Linked DNA regions of Homo sapiens. The protein of the gene in region 6 purifies or fractionates together with the protein of the main gene of each other region. This does not show direct contact. Each region holds a gene or a part of one and is shown on either strand. Other genes may lie near its edges.

Evidence for each region.
Region 1: the proteins of ZSCAN1 (region 6) and PGBD1 purify together in Homo sapiens (affinity purification with mass spectrometry; 3 studies listed by BioGRID and IntAct, with this or other methods). This does not show direct contact.
Region 2: the proteins of ZSCAN1 (region 6) and ZNF213 purify together in Homo sapiens (affinity purification with mass spectrometry; 3 studies listed by BioGRID and IntAct, with this or other methods). This does not show direct contact.
Region 3: the proteins of ZSCAN1 (region 6) and GOLGA3 purify together in Homo sapiens (affinity purification with mass spectrometry; 2 studies listed by BioGRID and IntAct, with this or other methods). This does not show direct contact.
Region 4: the proteins of ZSCAN1 (region 6) and ZNF215 purify together in Homo sapiens (affinity purification with mass spectrometry; one large-scale study listed by BioGRID and IntAct). This does not show direct contact.
Region 5: the proteins of ZSCAN1 (region 6) and MZF1 purify together in Homo sapiens (affinity purification with mass spectrometry; 3 studies listed by BioGRID and IntAct, with this or other methods). This does not show direct contact.
Region 7: the proteins of ZSCAN1 (region 6) and ZSCAN25 purify together in Homo sapiens (affinity purification with mass spectrometry; 3 studies listed by BioGRID and IntAct, with this or other methods). This does not show direct contact.

What each region holds. Positions count from the first base shown.
Region 1 is NC_000006.12:28,284,572-28,288,071, reverse strand, and holds part of PGBD1 (piggyBac transposable element-derived protein 1), read right to left. Parts: intron 2,522-3,500; coding exon 2,365-2,521; intron 993-2,364; coding exon 904-992; intron 1-903.
Region 2 is NC_000016.10:3,140,667-3,143,304, reverse strand, and holds the end of ZNF213 (zinc finger protein 213), read right to left. Parts: coding exon of another isoform or gene 2,617-2,638; coding exon 1,958-2,616; 3' UTR 501-1,957; downstream 1-500. UniProt on the Homo sapiens protein: May be involved in transcriptional regulation.
Region 3 is NC_000012.12:132,808,370-132,811,869, forward strand, and holds part of GOLGA3 (golgin subfamily A member 3), read right to left. Parts: exon of another isoform or gene 3,418-3,500; intron 181-3,417; coding exon 1-180. UniProt on the Homo sapiens protein: Golgi auto-antigen; probably involved in maintaining Golgi structure.
Region 4 is NC_000011.10:6,950,426-6,953,925, reverse strand, and holds part of ZNF215 (zinc finger protein 215), read right to left. Parts: intron 1-3,500. UniProt on the Homo sapiens protein: May be involved in transcriptional regulation.
Region 5 is NC_000019.10:58,563,336-58,566,835, forward strand, and holds part of MZF1 (myeloid zinc finger 1), read right to left. Parts: intron 170-3,500; coding exon 1-169. UniProt on the Homo sapiens protein: Binds to target promoter DNA and functions as a transcription regulator. Regulates transcription from the PADI1 and CDH2 promoter. May be one regulator of transcriptional events during hemopoietic development.
Region 6 is NC_000019.10:58,051,025-58,055,131, reverse strand, and holds the end of ZSCAN1 (zinc finger and SCAN domain-containing protein 1), read right to left. Parts: intron 2,643-4,107; coding exon 2,504-2,642; intron 1,704-2,503; coding exon 1,081-1,703; 3' UTR 501-1,080; downstream 1-500. UniProt on the Homo sapiens protein: May be involved in transcriptional regulation.
Region 7 is NC_000007.14:99,623,446-99,626,945, reverse strand, and holds part of ZSCAN25 (zinc finger and SCAN domain-containing protein 25), read right to left. Parts: intron 2,890-3,500; coding exon 2,766-2,889; intron 1-2,765. UniProt on the Homo sapiens protein: May be involved in transcriptional regulation.

The DNA.
Region 1 (3,500 bases), on a different chromosome or scaffold from region 6:
CTTATTCCTCCTTAATTTGAACTTACTAATTATATTTCAGTGCAAACACCTGACTACGTTGTTATTTCCCTAGTTATAATCACATCAAGCACTTGCATTTTGAAACACTACTTTTAAAATAAATAACTTTTTTGTTTCTACATTATACCATTAAATTACATTTAAGGGAATTATGTTGATTTTCAGAATGTGCATGAGTAGGTTTTATTTTCTAGATACTTCTTATCAGGAAGTATTTGTTAATAACAGGAGGCACTGGGTCTGATAGAATTAAAAATTAATTAGAAGCCATAGAAGAGGACTGAGCAAGTGTCTTGAGGAAACTGATGTGGCAGCAGTATGCAAGAGGACTTAAATGAGAGAGTTATTTTTTTTTTGTAAATAAATGACTAGGAAAATGAATGAACCACTAATAAGAAAAAAAACCAGAGTCCATTTTGTGAAGAAGATGTTAAGTATTACCTTAGATATATAGAATTTCCATTATTATCACCAAGCATTAATTGCATACATGCTGAATATAAAGTAGTGTGAGAAAGGGCCCTTATTCTAAAGCTGGGGAGATAAACCAGAGACTTCAAAGGAGAAAATATCAGTTACTCAACATCAAATGAGTGGAGCACTTTCTGAAACCAGGAGCCTCACTCCACCCCTCACTCCCATGCCTTGAGATTTGGACGTGCCTCCTGAACAATGAAATGAGGCAATGGCATATAATCAATACAAGCTCCTCGAATGATGCAACACACTTTGTGATATTCTGTGACAAGGTGAAGGCAGAGGGACTATGCCACCTGAATGGCTCTCACGATGATGAGTGTGAGCCAAGAGAAGGGCAAGGAACATGGAATGAGGGAGAAAGACCACTACTGATATTCCTACAAGCTTGGGCATCCTACTTACCTGGGACCTGACTGGGTTAAACACAGGCACTACAGCCTTGTCTCTGGGGTTTTTTTCCTGGAGATGAGCTGATCCGTGGGGAACAGGCCCTGCAGAGAGAGAGGGCAAGAGTCCTAAATGAGACATGATGGCCTTTAGGGTACCCTTTTTGGAGACCCAGCCTTTTCCCCCAAATGTTATGTTTGTTAAACATTCAAGAACTAAGACGTAGATTTTACAGTGTGAGAAAGAGCATCACAACTGCTTTCATTCTGTCAGAAATTCTAAAATTCTACAACTTTAGGGTCTCTCACCCAAAAAATGGAGTGGGATTTATGAACTCATAAGGTGCTTTACAGTCATGCACTTTCACATAAAGAAAAAATAAAAATCATAGACAAAAATAAAGGGGAGGAAGAAGCTGGTGATAAAGGAAGGATCAAGGAGAGAACACAGAGGCAAAAGAAAGGATGTAGAGAGTAGAGAGATGAGACTGAGGGGAAACAGGAAAGCAGAAGAAAGGAAGATGGAGAGAGAGACAGGAAAATAAAGATATTTAAAAAAATAGAGAAGAGATGTTAGCCATGAACTAGAAAAACTGTTAGGAGGTACTGATCCCAAAGAACCAACAATAATCAAAATGGTGATGATGACTGCACAAGGCCAGCCACTGTGCTGTTACTTTAAAAGATTATTTCCAATCCTCAAAATAATCAAGAAGGTCCAAATTATTGCCTCCAAAATCCTAGGCACATTCAGAAGAATCACAGCTGAGTGCAGAGTACACACAGAGATCAAACAGATAATTGTTGATTAACTGAATAACCTATTAAATGACTTGCCTAGGTCACAAAGTTGGCAGTTGGCAGATGGCAGAGTACAAAATTATCAAATGAAGAGCACATGTGGTAATTCTAACCCAAAAATATAAAACAGAACATCACTTTTCTTTGCTCTGCTTTTCTTTGCTTCCATAATGGATCACTATGGAATGTTTTTATTGCTGTTGTTGCATTTCTAGAAGGAATAAAGTTTGCTGGAAAAAAACAGCCTTGCCCCGATTCACTTTTACTATTATATGTACTTGTCCACAACACATACATACTAAATAAACCAGCTTAAAATGCACAGTGTAAAATAAAGCAGGTCTTTACAAGTTTGTTCAGATACAGGGTTAGACAAAAAAATAAAACTTGATGTTGGTCACAGGGTATAAACTTGCAGTTATAAGATGAATAAGCTCTGAAGACCTACGTACAGAATGCTGACTATAGTTAGTAATAATAATATATTGTATACTTGAAATTTCATGAGAGTAGATCTTAGGAATTCTTACCACAGACACATAAAAGGTAACTGTGAGATATGTAAGTTAGCTTGTGGTAATCATTTCACAATGTATACAAACTTGAGGTCAAGAAGGCTGTGCAAGTGTCAGTGGCCAGCTCCCAGCGTCCTCACTAAACTCACTCGAGCACTCACCACTCACTTCTTGGGGGTTCCCTTGAGGACGCTGTGGAGGTTCACACTTCAGGGTGGTTATCCCAGGCAGGAGCTGGAGGCTCTGACACTCCAAAGAGACTCCTTGATATTCTGCCACCATTGGGTGCATGTCCTGTCCCTGAATATAGACAGAGGCCTGGAAACAAAAGATTTATTTTGAAAGGGCATGCATATATGGACTGCATGCTAAGAGCCTGGCACTGTTCTACATGCTGGGGATACAGCAGCAAACAAGGCAGAAAAGACAGGCAAAGGATCCCAGCCCAGAAAAACAAAAACAACAAACAAGTGGATGTTTAAACTAGCTGGTGAAAATTTAATGAGGAACAGGATATGTACACCACCTCAAAATGTCTCCCACAGATTACTTAGTAATTACAAAGGGGAAAATGGTAACTTTCTAGTGGAGAAAATTGACAGGTACCACCATAACCTCATCAGTAATGGGACAAATCATCACTACGCACCTCCTGAAGTAACGCACTGAGAACACAACATTACCTCTGTGGTATTCTAGCCAAAATGTGCAGCCTGAATCATGAGAAAATATAGGACAAACTCAAATTGAGGGATAGTCTCCAAAAAAACTAGCTGTACTCTTCAAAAATAACAACGTCATGACAAAGACAGCAGCTACTCCAGATTCACAGACTAGAGATATGGCAACTAAGTGCAATATGTGATGCTGGCTTGTATCCTGAATCACAGGAAAATTATCATAAAGAACATTATTAGGATAACATGGCAAAATATGAATAAGGACTAAGGTTATATGATAGTATCGTAAGTTTAATTTCCCTAAACTTGATTTTTGTATTCTTGTGATACAAGAGAATATCCTCACTCTTCAGAAATACACACCGAATAGCCAGGTGCAGTGGCTCATGCCTGTAATCCCAACACTTTGGGAGGCCAAGGCAGCATGATCACTTGAGGCCAGGAGTTCAAGATCAGCCTGGGCAATATAGTGAGACCCCACCCCCGCTACAAAAAATTAAAAATAAATTAGCCAGGCATGGTGGCATGCACCTGTAGTCCCATCTACTCAGGAGCCTGAGGTGGGAGGATTGCTTGAGCCTTCCACCATTGCAGTTCAAGGCTGCAATGATGCTATG
Region 2 (2,638 bases), on a different chromosome or scaffold from region 6:
GCACCCACCAGCCCTTGGTGGGTCCCGGCCTGGGGCTCCTGGTAGGGAGAAGTTGGATGTCAGGGGCTGGTGGGAAGGGCAAGCCCGCTGTCAGCCCCTCCTCCAAGGGACTCAGCCTGGGGCAGCCTTGAGTTCCAGATCCCCAACACGCAGCAAGAGGGTCCCACCACTGACCAAGCAGCGTCTATGGGCCCTTCTTCCTTTCACAGTTGTGGGAGAGGAGTGGCCTGGTGAAGACCCTGAGTCCTGCTCAGCTCCCCGTTCTGCTGGAGCACCGACGGTGCTCCCAGAGCAGGGCAGGCACTAGCTGACACAGGGGGACAAGAGTCCCAGGGGACACGGCTGCCCATTGGGGCCCAGCCGACCTGGACGCCAAGGACGCAGCTCCGCCTGGTCACGGTGCAGCAGCATGTGCCACCAGGACACAAGGCCAGGGCAAGGGGCATATATTCCAGGTATCCCCACCCTCCAGCTACCGAAAGAACAGAACAGCCTGGAGGTAAGTTTTCACGTTTATTAATACTCTTCTGTTGCCCTTTGGAGGTCTGAGGGGGAGTCCTTGCAGGGCCTCTGGTCTGTCCCTGTTCATGGAAGGCAGTGCTCAGGAGGCAGCAGCAAAGTGCCAATGAAGCAGGGCGTTAGTGCCGATGGAGCAGGGAGCCAGTACCGGTGGAGCTGGGCGTTGGTGCCAATGGAGCGAGGCACTGGTGCCGGTGGAGCGGGGCGTTAGTGCCGATGGAATGGGGCACCAGTGCCGTTGGAGCTGGACGTAGTGATGATGGAGCAGGGTGGTAGTGCCGACGGAGCTGGACATAGTGATGATGGAGCGGGGTGGTAGTGCCGATGGAGCCGGACGTTAGTGACAATGGAGTGGGACACCAGTGCCGATGGAGCAGGGCGTTAGTGCTGATGGAGTGGGGCACCAATGTCAAAGGAGCGGGTCATTAGTGCCGCTGGAGTTGGGGCGTTAGTGCCAATGGAGTGGAGCATTAGTGCTGATGGAGTGGGGCGCCGAGTGGGGCATTAGTGCCGATGGAGCGGGGCCGATGGAGTGGGGCGCCGAGTGGAGCATTAGTGCCGATGGAGCAGGGCGCCAGTGCCGATGGAGCAGGGTGCCGGGGCCGATGGAGTGAGGTGCTAGTGCTGATGGAGTGAGGTGCTAGTGCTGATGGAGTGCTAGTGCTGAGTCTGGTGCAGCCCCACCTCTGGAGGAAAAGATGGCAGCCAGGCGCCCTGTTCTTGGTCTCCAGGGTTGGCCTCCTGTCGCTGGAGCCACCATTATCCTCACCAGATTGGTGGGCAGGTGGCTCTCAGAGCCTCATGCTAGGGCAAGTAGGCCGAGGGCAAAGGCAGGCCGAGTCCGTATGGCCAGGACAGGGCAGAGTGGTCATGGCCTGGAAACGGGAGTGGGAGGGGGCCAGAAAGCCCCTGCCGCCGTGACTAAGACCCGCGGTCCCACAGGTGTGGGCTGTCTCTCCCAAAGTCCAGCAGCCCCCTGGGGGGCCAAGGCCAGTCCTCCACGCCCACTGAAAGGCACAGGTTGGTAGGGCAGAGGCCTGACCCATGGACCCACCCCACAGGGTGGGGGCCAAAGAGCCACACAGTCAAATGAGGCTCGGGGGCTTCTGGGAAGGGACCTAGACCTGAGTCCTTGCCACCCTGCTGTCCCTGCCAGGAATGTGTTGGGGCTCCAGGAAACTAGAGGGGAAGAGGAACGCTAGGCGCAGAAGGGGGAAAGAGGACAAGATCGGGGGCGGGAGGGGAAGGCTTCCGTTCCCTTTGAGCGCTGGGCAGGTCCTCAGAGCCAAGCAGGGCAGGCGAGCTCCGAGTGTGAGGTACCCTGGGGTCCCTCGGACAGCCCGGGAGGTGGCCACAGATGGAAGGAGAGTCCCAGTGGTGAACAAAGCAGGATGTGCCGTGGCTGGGCCTCCCCCGGGTTTCCGGCCAAGCCAGCTGCTCACCCCACGGGCTGGGCCATCTTGGCGTGCAGGCTCTGATGCGCGATGAGGTGCGCGCGCTGCTTGAAGCTCTTGTCGCACTCTCCGCAGCCGAAGGGCCGCTCACCGGTGTGCACACGCCGATGGTCCAGCAGGTAGGAGCGCAGCGAGAAGCTCTTGCCGCAGTCGCTGCAGCCGAAAGGCTTCTCGCCCGTGTGTATGCGCTGGTGGTCGGCCAGGTAGGCGCTGCGGCTGAAGCTCTTGCCGCACTCGGAACAGGAGAAGGGCTTCTCGCCCGTGTGCACGCCTTGGTGGCGCACCAGGTCCGAGGAGCTGCGGAAGCTCTTGTCGCACTCAGGGCACTTGTGTGGCTTCTCGCCCGTGTGCGTGCGCTGGTGCCGCGCCAGGTCCGAGCCCCAGCGGAAGCGCTTTCCACACTGCCCGCAGCTGTGCGGCTTCTCGGCTGCCAGGTCCCGGAACTGGCGCCGGCGAGTGGGTGGCCGCCCCCGTCGCGCGCCCACCACTGGGCCCAGGGCCGCCCTCGGCCGGTTCTCGCTCTCCCAGGCCTCAGCCTCCTCGGGGCTCCAGGACACAGTCACGTCGCTGCCTGTCTGGCCTGGCACCACCGGCACCATCTCCTGCAGCAGGGACTTCTCACTTTGGCCTTTGAGCCCAAAACCTGCAAGGGGAAGGAGGCGACC
Region 3 (3,500 bases), on a different chromosome or scaffold from region 6:
CCTAGGATGTGCCGGAAGCCCCAGGCTGCCCACCTTAGGCCCCCGAGGGACACTGGTGCGCAGGAAGGAATATTCTTTTGTCATAGCCAGGGTACTGGCCCTTGGTAAGTTTTCTGGGTTTAACATGAGCTCAGGATCAAGCGTGCTAAAAAGTCTCGTTTTGGTTGCAGGTTGACTGGACTGAGAAGAAAACAAAAGTACAAAAATTACATTTAAAATCCACAAGCAGCATACTTAAAACTGCCATTCAGAAAGGTGGCACCGATCACTACTCCCTCCGCTGACAACCAGAGAGCACCACCTCCCCAGCCCCTCACCACACAGGGTGCGGCCAGGCCTCCGATCCGTGGTGGTCTCACTGCCGCAAGGCCCCACTCTAGTGACCAGCATGACCACCTCTGGTCTAAAGCACACTCTTCAGTGACTGTGACCTCAACACGTTTAAAACACATCCCAGCAAGTACCTCCTCATCAGACTTCTGTAGGGACCAGCCCCACAGGGTCAGTGGGTCTCCCCCTGTGTGCGGCGACGAGAGTGTAGAAATAAAGACACAAGACAAAGAGACAAGAGAAAAGGCAGCTGGGCCTGGGGGACCACTACCACCAATGCGCGGAGACCGGTAGTGGCCCTGAATGTCGGGCTGCGCTGTTATTTATTGGATACAAGGCAGAAGGGGCAGGGTAAAGAATGTGAGTCACCTCCAATGATAGGTAAGGTCACGTGGGTCACGTGTCCACTGGACGGGGGCCCTTCCCTGCCTGGCAACCAAGGCAGAGAGGGAGAGGAGACACAAAGACAGCTTACGCCATTATTTCTGCATATCAGGGACTATTAGTACTTTCACTAATTTACTACTGCTGTCTAGAAGGCAGAGCCAGGTATACAGGATGGAACATGAAGGCAGACTAGGAGTGTGACCACTGAAGCACAGCATCACAGGGAGATGGTTAGGCCTCCGGATAACTGCGGGCAGGCCTGACATCAGTCAGGCCCTCCACAAGAGGTGGAGGAGCAGAGTCTTCTCTAAACTCCCCCGGGGAAAGGGAGACACCAACCCCCACCCCCGCCCCCCCGCCCCCCGGTTCCCGGTCTGCTAAGTAGTGGGTGTTGTTCCTTGACACCTTTTGCTACCGCTGGACCACGATCCGCCTGGTAACGGGCGTCTTCCCGTCTTCCCAGACACTGGCTTCACCGCTAGACCAAGGAGCCCTCTGGTGGCCCTGTCTGGGCATAACAGAAGGCTTGCACTCTTGCCTTCTGGTCACACCTCACTATGTCCCCTCAGCTCCTATCTCTGTATGGCCTGGTTTTTCCTAGGCTATGATTATAGAGCGAGGATTATCATAATATTGGAATAAAAAGTAATTGCTACAAACTAATGATTAATGATATTCATATATAATCATATCTAAGATCTATATCTGGTGTAACTATTCTTGTTTTATATTTTATTATACTGGAACAGCCCGTGTCCTCTGTCTCTTGCCTCGGTGCCTGAGTGGCTTGCCACCCACAGACTTCCTCAACAGAACTTTCCTGGCTACTCTCCAGTTTATTTTATTTTTTTGGATAAACATAGAAATTTTCTTCAAGGCCGGGCGTGGTGGTTCACACCTGTAATCCCAGCACTTTGGGAGGCTGAGGCGGGCAGATCATTTGAGGTAAGGAGTTCAAGACCAGGCTGGCCAACATGTTGAAACCCCCGTCTCTACTAAAAATACAAAAAAATGAGCCAGGCATGGTGGCACACACCTGTAATCTCAGCTACTTGGGAGGATGAGGCAGGAGAATCACTTGAACCCAGGAGGTGGAGGTCGTAATAAGCCGAGATCATGCCACTGCACTCCAGCCTGGGTGACAGAGTGAGACCCTGTCTCCAAAACAAAAAAAAATTTCTTCAAAAAGGAAGAACATTCTGTTGAACTATAACCACCTTAAATCCATAATTTCCTCCGCCTGCCCACATCTGCTTGCACGTGTGGGCGGCAAGCCACCCAGGTGCCGAGGCAAGAGACTGAGGACGCGAACTGTTCCAGTATAATAAAGTATATAAAATAAGAATAGTTATACCAGATATAGATCTTAGATATGATTATATATGAATATCATTAATCATTAGTTTGCAGCAATTACTTTTTATTCCAATATTATAATAATCCTCACTCTACAATCATAACCTAGGAAAAACCAGGCCATACAGAGATAGGAGCTGAGGGGACACAGTGAGAAGTGACCAGAAGACAAGTGCGAGCCTTCTGTTATGCCCAGACAGGGCCACCAGAGGGCTCCTGGGTCTAGCGGTAACGCCAGCATCTGGGAAGACGCCCATTGCCAAGCAGACCATGGTCTAGCGGTAGCATCAGTGTCAAGGAAAAACACCCACTACTTAGCAGAGTTTAGAGAAGACTCTACTCCTCCACCTCTTGTGGAGGGCCTGACGTCAGTCAGGCCCGCGCACAGTTATCCGGAGGCCTAACCATCAACCTGTGATGCTGTGCTTCAGTGGTCACACTCCTAGTCTGCTTTCATGTTCCATCCTGTACACGTGGCTCTGCCTTTTAGATAACAGTAGCAAAATTAGTGAAAGTACTAAAAGTCTCTGATATGCAGAAATAACGGCATAAGCTGTCTCTCTCTCTCCCTCTCTCTCTACCTCAGCTGCCAGGCAGGGGAGGGCCCCCTGTCCAGTGGGCACGTGACCCACGTGACCTTACTTATCATTGGAGATGACTCACACTCTTTACCCTGCCCCTTTTGCTTTGTATCCAATAAATAACAGCACAGCCTGACATTCGGGGCCACTACCTGTCTCCACGTCTTGGTGGTAGTGGTCCCCCCGGCCCAGCTGTCTTTTATCTCTTTGTCTTGTGTCTTTATTTCTACACTCTCTCGTCTCCGCACACAGGGAGAAAACCCACTGACCCTGTGGGGCTGGACCCTACATGCACGCCCCTCAACAGAGCAGCTACCCCACCCCCATCTAGAACCCAGGCCCTCTGCGGCCATTCTAACTTATTTCTCAGTTTATCCTTTTTGTTGTTATAAATGTTATACTTCCCACTAATCTTACAACTGCTAGGATAACTCTTCATTTTTCATACTTGCATTTTTATTTTTTTTTTGAGATGGACCCAGGCTGGAGTGCAGTGGTGCAATCTTGGCTCACTGCAACCTCTGCCGCCTGGGTTCAAGCGATTCTCCTGTCTCAGCCTCCTGAGTAGCTAGGATTACAGGGGTGTGCCATCACATCCGGCTAATTTTTTGTATTTTTAGTAGAGACGGGGTTTCTCCACGTTGGCCAGGCTGGTCTCAAACTCCTGACCTCAAGCAATCCGCCCGCCCCACCCTCCCATAGTGCTGGGATTATAGGTGTGAGCCACTGCACCCAGCCAGATTAAAGTATTTAAAAACATAACCTTAAAGGTATAAGAAGAACACGCTGGTCATTTTATTGATCTTCTTCTACTGAAGAGATCCTTTTGAAACATGACATAGGCTG
Region 4 (3,500 bases), on a different chromosome or scaffold from region 6:
GGACATCCACACCAAAAACCCATCTGTACATCACCATCATCAAAGACTAAAAGTAGATAAAACCACCAAGATGGGGAAAAAACAGAGCAGAAAAACTGGAAACTCTAAAGAGCAGAGTGCCTCTCCTCCTCCAAAGGAACGCAGTTCCTCACAAGCAACGGAACAAAGCCGGACGGAGAATGACTTTGACGAGTTGAGAGAAGAAGGCTTCAGATGATCAAACTACTTCAAGCTACAGGAGGAAATTCAAACCAAAGGCAAAGAAGGTGAAAACTTTGAAAAAATTTTAGACAAATGTATAACTAGAATAACCAATACAGAGAAGTGCTTAGAGTAGCTGATGGAGCTGAAAACCAAGGCTCGAGAACTATGTGAAGAATGCAGAAGCCTCAGGAGCTGATGCGATCAACTGGAAGAAAGGGTATCAGTGATGGAAGATGAAATGAATGAAATGAAGCAAGAAAGGAGGTTTAGAGAAAAAAGAATAAAAAGAAACAAACAAAGCCTCCAAGAAATATGGGACTATGTGAAGAGACCAAATCTACGTCTGATTGGTGTATCTGAAAGTGACGGGGAAAATGGAACCAAGTTAGAAAACACTCTGCAAGACATTTTCCAGGAGAACTTTCCCAATCTAGCAAGGCAGGCCAACATTCAGATTCAGGAAATACAGAGAATGCCACAAACATACTCCTTGAGAAGAGCAACTCCAAGACATACAATTGTCAGATTCACCAAAGTTGAAATGAAGGAAAAAATGTTAAGGGCAGCCAGAGAGAAAGGTCGGGTTACCCACAAAGGGAAGCCCATCAGACTAACAGCGGATCTCTTGGCAGAAACTCTACAAGCCAGAAGAGAGTGGGGGCCAATATTCAACATTCTTAAACAAAAGAATTTTCAAACCAGAATTTCATATCCAGCCAAACTAAGCTTCATACGTGAAGGAGAAATAAAATACTTCACAGACAAGCAAATGCTGAGAGATTTTGTCACCACCAGGCCTGCCCTAAAAGAGCTCCTGAAGGAAGCACTAAACATGGAAAGGAACAACCGGTACCAGCCACTGCAAAATCATGCCAAATTGTAAAGACCATCGAGGCTACGAAGAAACTGCATCAACTAACCAGCAAAATAACCAGCTAACATCATAATGATAGGATCAAACTCACACATAACAATATTAACTTTACATGTAAATGGACTAAATGCTCCAATTAAAAGACACGGACTGGCAAATTGGATAAAGAGTCAAGACCCATCAGTGTGCTGTATTCAGGAAACCCATCTCATGTGCAGAGACACACATAGGCTCAAAATAAAAGGATGGAGGAAGATCTACCGAGCAAATGGAAAACAAAAAAAGGTAGGGGTTGCAATCCTAGTCTCTGATAAAACAGACTTTAAACCAACAAAGATCAAAAGAGACAAAGAAGGCCATTACATAATGGTAAAAGGATCAATTCAACAAGAAGAGCTAACTATCCTAAATATATATGCACCCAATACAGGAGCACCCAGATTCATAAAGCAAGTCCTGAGTGACCTACAAAGAGACTTAGACTCCCACACAATAATAATGGGAGACTTCAACACCCTACTGTCAACATTAGATAGATCAACAAGACAGAAAATTAACAAGGATACCCAGGAATTGAACTCAGCTCTGCACCAAGCAGACCTAATAGACATCTACAGAACTCTCCAGCCCAAATCAACAGAATGTACATTTTTTTCAGCACCACACCACACCTATTCCAAAACTGACCACATACTTGGAAGTAAAGCTCTCCTCAGCAAATGTAAAAGAATAGAAATTATAACAAACTGTCCCTCAGACCACAGTGCAATCAAACTAGAACTCAGGGTTAAGAAACTCACTCAAAACCACTCAACTACATGGAAACTAAACAACCTGCTCCTGAATGACTACTGGGTGCATAACGAAATGAAGGCAGAAATAAAGATGTTCTTTGAAACCAGTGAGAACAAAGACACAACATACCAGAATCTCTGGGACACATTCAAAGCAGTGTGTAGAGGGAAATTTATAGCACTAAATGCCCACAAGAGAAAGCAGGAAAGATCCAAAATTGACACCCTAACATCACAATTAAAAGAACTAGAAAAGCAAGAGCAAATGCATTCAAAAGCTAGCAGAAGGCAAGAAATAACTAAAATCAGAGCAGAACTGAAGGAAATAGAGACACAAAAAACCCTTCAAAAAATTAATGAATCCAGGAGCTGGTTTTTTGAAAGGATCAACAAAATTGATAGATCACTAGCAAGACTAATACAGAAGAAAACAGAGAAGACTCTGATAGACTCAATAAAAAATGATAAAGGAGATATCACCACCGATCCCACAGAAATACAAACTACCATCAGAGAATACTACAAACACCTCTATGCAAATAAACTAGAAAATCTAGAAGAAATGGATAAATTCCTCGACACATACACCCTCCCAAGACTAAACAAGGAAGAAGCTGAATCTCTGAACAGACCAATAACAGGCTCTGAAATTATGGCAACAATCAATAGCTTACCAACCAAAAAGAGTCCAGGACCAGATGGATTCACAGCCGAATTCTACCAGAGGTACAAGGAGGAACTGGTACCATTCCTTCTGAAACTATTCCAATCAATAGAAAAAGAGGGAATCCTCCCTAACTCATTTTATGAGGCCAGCATCATCCTGATACCAAAGCCTGGCAGAGACACAACAAAAAAAGAGAATTTTAGACCAATATCCTTGATGAACATTGATGCAAAAATCCTCAATAAAATACTGGCAAAGCAAATCCAGCAGCACATGAAAAAGCTTATCCACCATGATCAAGTGGGCTTCATCCCTGGTATGCAAGGCTGGTTCAATATACGCAAATCAATAAATGTAATCCAGCATATAAACAGAACCAAAGACAAAAACCACATGATTATCTCAATAGATGCAGAAAAGGCCTTGGACAAAATTCAACAACCCTTCATGCTAAAAACTCTCAATAAATTAGGTATTGATGGGACGTATCTCAAAATAATAAGAGCTATTTATGACAAACCCACAGCCAATATCATACTGAATGGACAAAAACTGGAAGCATTGCCTTTGAAAATTGGCACAAGACAGGGATGCCCTCTCTCACCACTCCTATTCAACATAGTGTTGGAAGTTCTGGCCAGGGCAATCAGGCAGGAGAAGGAAATAAAGGGTATTCAATTAGGAAAAGAGGAAGTCAAATTGTCCCTGTTTGCAGATGACATGATTGTATATCTAGAAAACCCCATCGTCTCAGCCCAAAATCTCCTTAAGCTGATAAGCAACTTCAGCAAAGTCTCAGGATACAAAATCAATGTACAAAAATCACAAGCATTCTTATACACCAATAACAGACAAACAGAGAACCAAATCATGAGTGAACTCCCATTCACAATTGCTTCAAAGAGAATAAAATACCTAGGAATCCACTTTACAAGGGACGTGAAGGACCTCTTCAAGGAGA
Region 5 (3,500 bases), 510 kb from region 6:
TCACTCCTCAGATCGCTGGGGAGCAGAAGCGCATGCGCAAAGCCACCTTCGCGGGAGGGTGATTGGATCTGGCCAGAAAGGCCAGCCATGCCGAGGTCCCAGGGGACGTGGAGGTGAGGGCTTACACTACCTGGACCTGCGGAGATGCTGCCTAGCTGCAGCGCGAACCCTGCATACACAAGGGGACCATTCATTCATGACAGAATGCCCACCGTGCCGGGACCCACTTCATCCCTGGGGACACAGTGTGAACTACAGGGACCTGAAACTGACCAAAGAGGCAGACGGAGGCGACAAATGCAGGGGTAGGGATTCTATCTGTACAGACTTCCCTGATGAGGTGATAATGAGACAGAACCCAGCACAAGGAGGAAGACTGGGCTATGTGAAAAAGCTTTCTAGGTCTGATTTAGGTTGGAAAAAATCGTTTTTGGAAGGGCTGTAGGGCAAGCGTGGGGGCATTGTCTAGGTGGAAAATGATGGTCTCAGCAAATGCAGGGAAGTGGGTGGGTCTCGGAGGCTGGAGGTGGAGCCAACAGAAAGAGGGTGCAGGCTCCTGGATAGTGGTCTGGGGTTTGGATGTGCCTTGCTTGTGATGTCTGTGGGGCATCTGAGGAACACAGACTTCATGAAGGCTGTGGGGAAACGTGAGCAAGGGCTCTAGGGCATACACATGGCACACAGAACCCGGGCCTGCAAGTGATCAACACAGGGGTGGGTATCTACAGAGGAGAGAAGTGGGTCCCAGCCACACTGTGAGCACTCCAGCGTCAGACGCTGGGTGAAGGAGGAGGCACCAGCAACTCCAACTGAGAATCAGGGCCTGGAGAAGGCGGAAGCCTGGAGGAGGTTAAATCAAGAAGACTGAGAGAGCAGTGAGGGCTTTTAGTGGTGAGAGAAAGTCCATAAGTCGCCAAAGAAAAGTCAGATAAACTAGAATACATCAAAGGAAATCAGCAAAAACCACATCAGAGTCAAAAGACAAATGGCCAAAAAACAAAAAAAATTAAAAAAGGACAAATGGCAAACCAAAAAACTCTCCACAGGCAAAAGGCTAATTAACCTCCTAAGTAAAGAGCTACAATAAATCAGTAAGAAAGATCAATAACCTCATAGACACATGGGCAAAGGATGTGAACAGGACAGGAAATGTAGCTAATGCTTATATCCCATAAAATACACTCCATCTCCTCCTAGTAAGAAAAATGCACCTTAGGGCTGAACTCATCTGCCATTTCCACACCCTGACTGCAGGGACCCAAGTGTTCCTATGTATTGCTGGTAAGCATAAATGGGAAGACAGTGTGGTAAAATCCATCAAAACAGCAAATGTCCCACACTTTGTTCAAGTAATTCAATTTTTAGGTACTTCTTCAACAGTTGTGTTCCTCCTTGTACTAAGTGACCTACATACAAGGTTTTCAATGGTGTGTCCACAGTGAGCCACAGTGGGGTTCTGTGTAGCTACCCAAAGATGTAGAGCACTTGCTGCTGTGTACTTAAGTTGGAAGATGCACAAAAAATGCCAGATGTGGAACAGGGTGGAGAATAAGCATCCATGTGTGTGTTTTTTTTTTTTTTTTTTTTTTTTTTTTTTTTTTTTGAGACTGAGTCTTGCTGTGTCGCCCAGGCTGGAGTGCAGTGGTGTGATCTCGGCTCACCGCAACCTCTGCCTCCCGGGTTCAAGCGATTCTGCTGCTTCATCTTCCTGAGTAGCTGGGATTATAGGCGTGCACCACCATGCCTGGCTAATTGTTTGTATTTTTTTTTTTTTTGAGACGTAGTTTTGCTCTTGTTGCCCAGGTTGGAGTGCAATGGCGTGTTCTCTGCTCACTGCAAACCTCCATCTCCTGGGTTCAAGCGGTTCTTCTGCCTCAGTCTCCCGAGTAGCTGGGATTACAGGCATGCACCACCACACCCGGCTAATTTTGTATTTTTAGTAGAGACAGGGTTTCTCCATGTTGGTCAGGCTGGTCTCGAACTCCCGACCTCAGGTGATCTGCCCACTTCAGCCTCCCAAAGTGCTGGGATTGCAGGCGTGAGCCACCGCACCTAGCCAATTTTTTGTATTTTTAGTAGAGACATGGTTTCACCATGTTGGCCAGGCTGGTCTCGATCTCCTGACCTCATATGATCCACCCGCCTCGCCTTCCCAAAGTGCTGGGATTACAGGTGTGAGCCACCACGCCCAGCCCGTGTGTGTGTGTGCGCACTTGAGACGGAGTCTCGCTCTGTTGCCCAGGCTGGAGTGTAGTGGCGCCATCTCAGCTCACTGCAAGCTCCGCCTCCCGGGTTCACGCCATTCTCCTGCCTCAGCCACCCGAGTAGATGGGACTACAGGCGCCCGCCACCACGCCTGACTAATATTTTGTATTTTTAGTAGAGACGGGGTTTCGCCGTGTTAGCCAGGATGGTCTCGATCTCCTGACCTCGTGATCCGCCCGCCTTGGCCTCCCAAAGTGCTGGGATTACAGGCGTGACGTGCCGCGCCGGGCCCATGTGTGTTTTAAAGGAGAGGAATGGGGCTGGGCACGGTGGCTCACGCCTGTAATCCCAGCACTTTGGGAGGCCGAGGCGGGTGGATCACGAGGTCAGGAGATCGAGACCATCCTGGCTAACACGGCGAAACCCCGTCTCTACTAAAAATACAAAATATTTAGCCAGGCGTGGTGGCCGGCGCCTGTAGTCCCAGCTACTCGGGAGGCTGAGGCAGGAGAATGTCGTGAACCCGGGAGGCGGAGCTTGCAGTGAGTCGAGATTGTGCCACTGCACTCCAGCCTGGGCGACAGAGTGAGACTCCGTCTCAAAAAAAAAAAAAGAAGAGGAATGGGCCAGGCATGGTGGCTCACGCCTGTGATCCCGGCACTTTGGCAGGCAAAGGTGGGCGGATCACCTGAGGTCGGGAGTTCCAGACCAGCCTGACCAACATGGGGAAACCCCGTCTCTACTAAAAAAATACAAAATTAGCTGGGCGTGGTGGAGCATGACTGTAATCTCAGCTACTTGGGAGGCTGAGGCAGGAGAATGGCTTGAACCGGGAGGTGGAGGTTGCAGTGAGCCGAGATCGCGCCATTGCACTCCAGCCTGGGCAACAAGAGCGAAATTCCATCTCAAAAGAAAAAAAAAAGGGAATGAACATGTGTCTGGGAATGTCTTTGCTTCTGTATGTACAGAATCTTTTTACAAAGACACATAAGAAACAAGCAGTGTTGGCTGCTGGAGAGTAAGACTGTGTGGCCCAGGCAGGGAAGGGGCATTCCACTGTATACTGTCTTGTGCCTTTTGAATTTCCTAACATATGAATGTATTAGCTATTCAGAATAGTCTCCTGATGAAGACATAAAAAGACCTCTCTGAGCCAGGTGTGGTGACTTGAGCCTGTAATTGCAGCTACTTGGAAAGCTGAAGCAGGAGGATCACTTGAGGTCAGGAGTTCAAGACCAGCCTGGGCAAAACAGCAAAACCCTGTCCTTTAAATAAATAAAGCAAGACTCCATTTC
Region 6 (4,107 bases):
GTGTTTCCAAGTGAAGTCGGGAGGAGAAAAAGAAAAAGGCAAAAACTTTTAAGGCTTTTGCTTGAAAGGGGACGAGTGTCCGACAACAATGAGTTGGGGACGGGTGAGAAGCCGAGTCCGAGGCTGGCTCCCCGCTGTGACGTCACCGCCTGCCCACACTCTGCTCCAGCCTAGCAGGAGAGGCGGGCCCACTCTTTGGAGACCATCTGATCCTTCCTGGCAGACCAGAAAGCCAGATTTTTATGGTTTAAACAAATGTTGGCATCTATCTAAAAAAAAAATCCTTCTGTAAGTCAAACAAAATACAGGCAGGTCAGTTTTGGTCAGGCCTAAAGACTGCGCCTGAAATCCTCAGAGACAGGAAGCAGATTCTGGTTGTCAGGGCGGGCAGGAATGGCGAAGGCGTGCTGAGGACTGTGGGCTCTCTTTCTGGGCAAGACGAAAACATCTTTGGAGCTAGAGAGTGCTGGTAGTTGCACAGTGTTGTGAATGTGCTTAATGCCACTGAACTGTTCATTTTTAATGACTGAAATGGTAAATTTTATGTTGCATGTACTTTACCCAAAAAAGGAAAAAAACAAAACCCTGTTTATCTGTTAGGTTCCAAGGGGGCTAAGCTGGCAGGAGGGCAGCCGGGGTCAGCTGTACCCTTCTCTGGAGTTGGAGCTGCCCAGGCCGGCTCCCACCCTCATGGCCTCAGGGATATCCACAGTGAAATGAAAACCCAGCGGCAGAAGCTGCCGCTGAGTCAGGTGCTAACAGGGAGACCTGGACAAGGCTTCTGAAAGATGGGACGCGAATGAAACTCCTCTTCAAGCCACTTGCAAAACTATAGTGCGCAGGACTGACCAGGCTGTGCTGTGGAACTGCTGCTTCTCAGCTGAGACCCTGGGAAGCCCCATCCCGTGCTTGGCTTCGGAGCAGGTGTCCAGGGTCTTCCGAGAAACAGCTTGTGTCCTTCAAGAGGAGTCCCAAGGTGGCCAGGGGTTGGTGGGGCTGGGGGATGTCCCCCATCTTCTGGGGCCCATCAGCTCCCCCCAGGGACTCAGGGCCGGGTGGCCGAGGCCCGAGGCTGGCCATTCACATGTGGCCGTGGGCCGTGTGGAGCTTCTGGTGGTCAATGAGGTGGACCATCCAGGGGAAGGCCTTCCCGCAGACGCTACACTGGAAGGGTCTTTTGGGGCTGCGAGGGGCCACTGGGCCCTGGGCTCCATCCCTGGGTGGGACGGACTCCCGGGGGCCCTTGCTCCGGGGGGCTTTCTTCCTCGGTGGCTCCAGCAGGTGGATCTTGCCATGCTCAGTGAGGACGGAGTTGTGCAGGAAGACCTTGCCACACTCGGGGCACGGAAAGGGCCCTTCCTCGCGATGGGTCTTCTGGTGCTCGATGAAGTGGGTGACCCAGGTGAAGACCATCCCACAGTCGGCACACTGGAAGGGCCGCCCACCTCGGGGCCCACGCGGCACTACCGAGATGCCTGCAACAGCCTCTTGGGTACCACCTTTGGTGTGCTTGAGGGATGGCTGGTGGCGGCCGCTCTGGTCAGTGTTCCTGTTTCTCCTTCGGGGACTGATTCTCTGAGCACTTGGACCCTTGGGGCTCGAGATCACAGTCCCTTCTGCCCGCAGGTCTGAGGAGGGCCCTGCGAGAAGGTCCTCAGGCTCGTCCCAGATACTCGGCTTCAGAGGCAAGCGGGCCCGGGACCCTGTGGAGGGCGAGGGAGATGGGTCACCTGTAGTGAGTGGATGGCCTTGGCATCTCCCTGTGCTCCCCAGGGGCACGGAGGACCCCAGTGACTGAGCCAAGTCCAGGCCCTTCCTCTGCTCAATACGGCCCCTGTGTCCTCCGTTCTGTCCTTTAAGATACAAGGGCACATGTGGCCGGTGCAGTGGCTCATGCCTGTAATCCCAGCACTTTGGGAGGCCGAGGAAGGTGGATCATGAGGTGAGGAGTTAGACACCAGCCTGACCAACATGGTGAAACCCCGTCTCTACTAAAATACAAAAATTAGCTGGGCGTGGTGGTGTGCGCCTGTAATCCCAGCTACTCAGGAGGGTGAGGCAGGAGAATCGCTTGAACCCAGGAGGCGGAGGTTGCAATGAGCCAAGATCACACCACTGCACTCCAGCCTGGGCAACAGAGCAAGACTCTGTCTCGAAAAAAAAAAAAAAAGGCACATGTTTTGGGAGCAGATCCCACAGCACTGGCCCTTGTTCCTACCTGGCTGGCCCTCTGGGTAACCCCGTGCTCCAACACTCTCAGACTGTCTGCCTTGGCTGCCGTTCAGGTGCGGAGGCTGAGGCCCTTCTCGTAGGGTGAACGATGTACATGGTGGTTCTAGGGGCCCCAGATCTCAGTCCTCACAGGAGGTGTGCATGCTTTCTGGGGGAAGTGTGGAGTTCACCACCGAAGCACCCAACTCAACCCATTAACAAAGTCTGTGGCTTTGGGTTGAAGTCCCAAACTCCATTTCCAACCCTTAATCCACACAGGAGCCAGACTCACCCAGCAAGCCAGGGGCGCGGGGCGCTTCGGCCTCCGCCCTGGTGTGCAGACTCTGCTGGAGCTGGGTAGTCTCCAGCCACTCACTTTCCTCGGGGAGTGCTGGGGCTGCTGCCACTGCATCCAGAATCAGCTCAGACGCCTAGAATGGCAAGCACAGGACTGTTCGGCAGCTGCCCCTCAGGAGCCATCCTCCCCACCACCACCGAACAACCAAGGAACGGGCGTCATCCCCAAAGGCTCTGTCCCAGGGCAGTGCGCGGTGTCGCGCCTGTTGTTCCCGTGCTTTGGGATGCTGATGCTGGAGGATTGCTTGAGGCCAGGAGTTTGGGACCAGCCTGGGCAACACAGCAAGACTCTGCTTATACAAAAAATAAATAACCACTCCTAAAGAGCTCTTAACAGGACCTGAGACAGAATTCGAGGGGCCCCTGTACAAAATGGAAATGCAAATCCCCTTGTTCAAAGATCGTTGATCATTTCAGGACAGTGACAACAGAGCATTAGATGGAGCCAGGGGACCTGTGCCACAGCTCGGGTCACTGTTACAAGCTGGGGCTCCTAACTCCCGTCCCCCAAGGCTGCACTGTCCTTGCCCACAAGCCCAGAGGAAGTGGGCGACTTCACAGACTTCACATCCCACCTGCGACCTATGACCTCTGATGCACCTAACCGTGTCCCGCCCAAAGCGGGGATCACCACTTCCTGGGAGGAGACTGAGCTGTGGTTGAAGAGCAAGAATTCGAAACAGAGGGGCTTGGCTTGGTGTCCAGGCTCCAGCCCTGCTTGTTGTGTGGCCCTGGATGAGGAGCTTTAGCTCTCTGGGTTTCCAGTGAGGATGTGGGTGCTACGTGCCCAGAGCCTGGTACCATCAAGGGCTCGGCAAACTGCAACGGAGTCGTGTCAAAGGAAAACACAGTGACACTTATCAATGCAAATCAGGTTGTTGGAGGAGGTATGTTGAGTCAAACAAAGCATCAGAAAAGACCAGGAGTCAAGCACGCACTGACAAGGTCTGTCTTGAGTGGGTCTTCGCTTTCTGCTGCCCCAACCCTACCTGGATGCACAGGGGCCTAAGGAAGCTGTCCAAGATTCCCAATAGCTGGGCAAAACTGGAGTAGAGGGATTGCTGGGCTAGAGACGGAGGAGGGAGGGAGGGAGGGAGGGAGCTGATGGCAGGAAGGGAGTTAAGGCACAAGATTCTTCCTGCTCTCACGTTGGGAGTATGTGGATGGTGTGTTTGGCTGGGTTATTGATTTTTATTTCTTATCAAATGCTAGTTTTGATTGTAAAACATGTTGAATTCTGAAATCGTAACCAGAGGAGCCACCATCTATAGGAGTAAAGGCGGGACTCCCTTTTACGCCTCTTCCTGGTACCTGGCTACTGGGGGCCATTGTGGACAGTCAGGCTCTTCCCTACTTCACCCACCTTGGCGTCTGTGACTAATCAAGGGCAGCAGAGGGGCTGCGTGGAGAGAAGAGTGGGTGGCATGTATGTGTGGAGAGAGGGGCATGCTTAGTTCCCCTGACTCTCAGGGGGCATCAGAGGAGCTATCGACACACTTGGGTCAGGCACAGAAACCAAGACATTCCCGGGGCCCTATC
Region 7 (3,500 bases), on a different chromosome or scaffold from region 6:
AGACACAGTAGTGGAAGAGAAGGGACCTAGCAGTGAGAAACCCGTTTTGAGTGCTGCACTGGCTGCTCAATTGCTGTGTGATCATGGGAAAATCAATTAACCTCTCTGAGCCTTACATTCACCACCTTCAAAATGGATTGTACACTCATGAAGTTTACTGCACACATGGAGCAGGAATGCAATGGTTCATGATATTATTTTAACTCCCAGACCATGTACCTGACTTGCAGCTACTTCCAGGGACCATCCACTTAGATCTCAAAGTCAACAAATGGAACTTTCCATTCTTCCTCCCTCTTAGGAAAATGCTTCCCTCTCTTTCTGACAGTAGTAACATAATTTTTCCAGGCCCTTAGCCAGGATCCTAAGACGTAGACTCCTCTCTGACTCTTCTCTTTCCTCCCCTCTGGCCAATCTGTGGCCCATCCTTGGAAGCATATTTCAGTAAACCCCCTTCTACATGACCACTGGCCTGGTTCCTGCTCTTACCCCAGTGCCTACACTATTTCAACCCTCCAGACTGGCCGTACCCTGCCGTCAATCCAATTTTCCTCAAGTAAAACCTCCATCACATTACTCTGCGCAGAAAAAATTTTTAAACAAGGACCCAGAGTCCTCACGGACTCCTCAGCGGCCTCACTCTACTCACTCCTGCCTCCTCCTTACTCCTCTGAGCACTCATCTTTCACTCCAGGACCCTCACCATCCTGGGAACCAGCCTGCAGAGTCCTGCATTCAGGTTTCTGCACCTGCTACTTTTTGCCTCTGTGATTCCAAATCCTGTTGTGAGTTCTTGCTCCAGTCCTTGTGGACATTACTGCAATTACAACCCAGACAACAAGGTCTGCACCTCACCGTCTGCTAATGAGAACAGACGAACAACTGGAAGTGATCTGGGCAGCCACCTAGCTCAACCCTGCCCTGTGCATTCAGTCTCTTTACAGGTGAAGCAGCTCAGGCCCAGCCCCAAGCAGCTGTCAGTACAAGCACCAGGACAACCCGAGTGTGAATCCCAGGAAGACCTGAAAGCTGGGACAGCAAGTGAATGGTACACTTGGGAAACAGGCCTTCGTGTCACCTGGCGGCAGAAATGTTCAGGTATGGGCTTGAGTTGCTCTGAGTTCTGAGACACTGAGCTGGTGAGGGGACAAGGACAGAACCAGTCTCCAGAACAGTCAGAAATGGCCAGGAGAGCATGAAAATCTTCTGAGAATGGGGGCGAGGGGCTCCTCACCCCACACAGCAGCATCACTGGGAGGGGAATATCCCTGAGGGGGACCCTGGCACCAGGACACTGGCACCTTTGTCTGGGGCTCATCACTCGAGCCCCTGCTTTGTTCTGTCATCCTCTGCCGTTACAGCAATCACACATCTCCACATAAAGTATGCTGACATCTTTCTGCCACTTGCATCACTGCCACACTGTGTCAACCGTGCCCTGGACCCAGGTCTCCCAGGAGACCAGTGCCCCTTACCGTATCCCACTATTACATGCACATGGCCTCTTCCCCTGAACTCTAAGACCCCACAGGCAAGCGCCTTTATTTTTAACTCTTCATAGTGACCAGAACAGCAATGGCCACAGAGCCAAGTCCACCTCTGTGGTGAATAAATGAGTGAAGGCTGAGGGCTCCTACAAGAATCCCTTAGTAATACTTACAGCACTAACTAAACAATCTAACACTACCATGGTCACCACACATTTAGATATGTCACCTCCCTTCATCCTCATGGCACCATGAGGACAGGTTCCATGAACAGCCCCATTCCACAACAGAGGAAACTGAGACCTGGAAAGCTCAAGGGAGATGCTCAAGGTCAGGGTCAGCAAGTGGAGGGGCAGGATGGATTCTCTTACGTCCTGAAGGAAGCACAGGGATAATCTTGCTCTTCCTTCAAGGCATTTCAGGATAAGGAAAGGCTAGGTGGGGTCGGTACAGATGGGTGGTCAGTGTACAACTCACAAAGAAGTTATGAAACAAAAAAGAAGAAAATCAAAGAACAAGGACAGGCCGCTCCAGCCACAGTGTTTCCTCTCCCCGCCGGCATCCTGATTCCACGCATGCAGACTCTCCATACTGTCCCTTGCCCTGGCAGCCCCAAAGCCCCGCAGTGCGCTCTGCTGGCAGCCCCTGTGGGCTCTCTCTCGCTGCTCCTCCTCCCATGAGCTGCTGTCACACACAATGGCCGCATCCCCCCAGGCTCTGAGCCCAGGTCAAACCCAGCCACCACCTGAGTCCCAGCGCAGCTCTGCTTCCTCTGTGACTCGGGCCACTCCAACCTCTCCCATCGCGAAGCCCCCTCGTGCCCTCCTACGTGCACACCGTGAGCTCCAACGCTTTCGTGCACGTTAGTCCTGCCCACTTCCTGCCGCAAGAGAAAACCACTAACACAGGGCCCACATGCAGGGAGCACTCAATAAATATCTGAACAAGCTCAGATGCCCCATCTTTTGCTGTTCGTATCTTGTTCTCAAGCCCTCAGTGTCTTTAATCATGGACACAATGTAGGTGTTTGGGGGTCCTCATGACCGACCTGTCTCCATACAGCCAGAATAATGGCCTCATGTTTTCCTGCTCCATCATTTGGCTCCTCTATTGACACAGGAAAGCAGCTCCTCGTGCCCCATGGTCCGTGCTGGACCCATTTACCCGCCTGCCATGAAGTCCCCTTCCTTTGCCAGGAGCGCCAGAGCTACGGCAGGACCCCTGACCTGAGCTTTCAGAACTCCCCAGTTCCTCACCTGTGGGTGGAGACAGTCTTACCTGGAGAGACCCTGCAGTCCTGCGGTTCCACATACTCCCCAAAGCAGTCTATCTGGGCTGGGGTCACATGCCTCCACTCCTCCTCAGGGAAGGCCAGGGCCATATCTTTAAATGGCCCCAACCCCTGCAACAATAGGAGATTGCTATGAATAAAGAAAGAATCCTAGGCCAGAGACAGTGGCTCATGTCTGTAATCCAACTTCCTCCCAACCAGCTTCCTCCCAACAGTTGAATGGGAGTAATCCACTTGTTTGAGCCACTGCAGTTGTGAGCCTCTGTGGCTGGGGCTCAGCTTGCCCCTAACAACTAAGTCACCTCATTTCCACTCTGCAGCAGCCTCCCACTCACACCTCATGCTTGACAGAGCCTGGCAGCCGCTATTTACCTTCTCATCAAGAACAAAGTTCACATTCGGCCAAGCCCTGTCTTAAGAACAAGGCTGTGATAAAATAAATGCATCCTCAATTTCTCACTCACTGCACCACGAAGAACTATTATGGTACAAGGGAGGATCCAACCAAATTAAAAAGCACTGATGTCATTCCTCATCCCCTCCAAAGTACATCCTTGGAGAACAGGAAAAGGGAAATGATGCTGGCATCCAGCCTTGCCCAAATACGGCTTGAGCAGGACCAGACTTGATCCCCTTCTTTTTTCTGCCAAACACCTTTTCTTCTTCAAAGAACTCTTTTAGACTCGCCTCCTTGAGGAAGGTGCCCCACTGGAAAGCCCCCA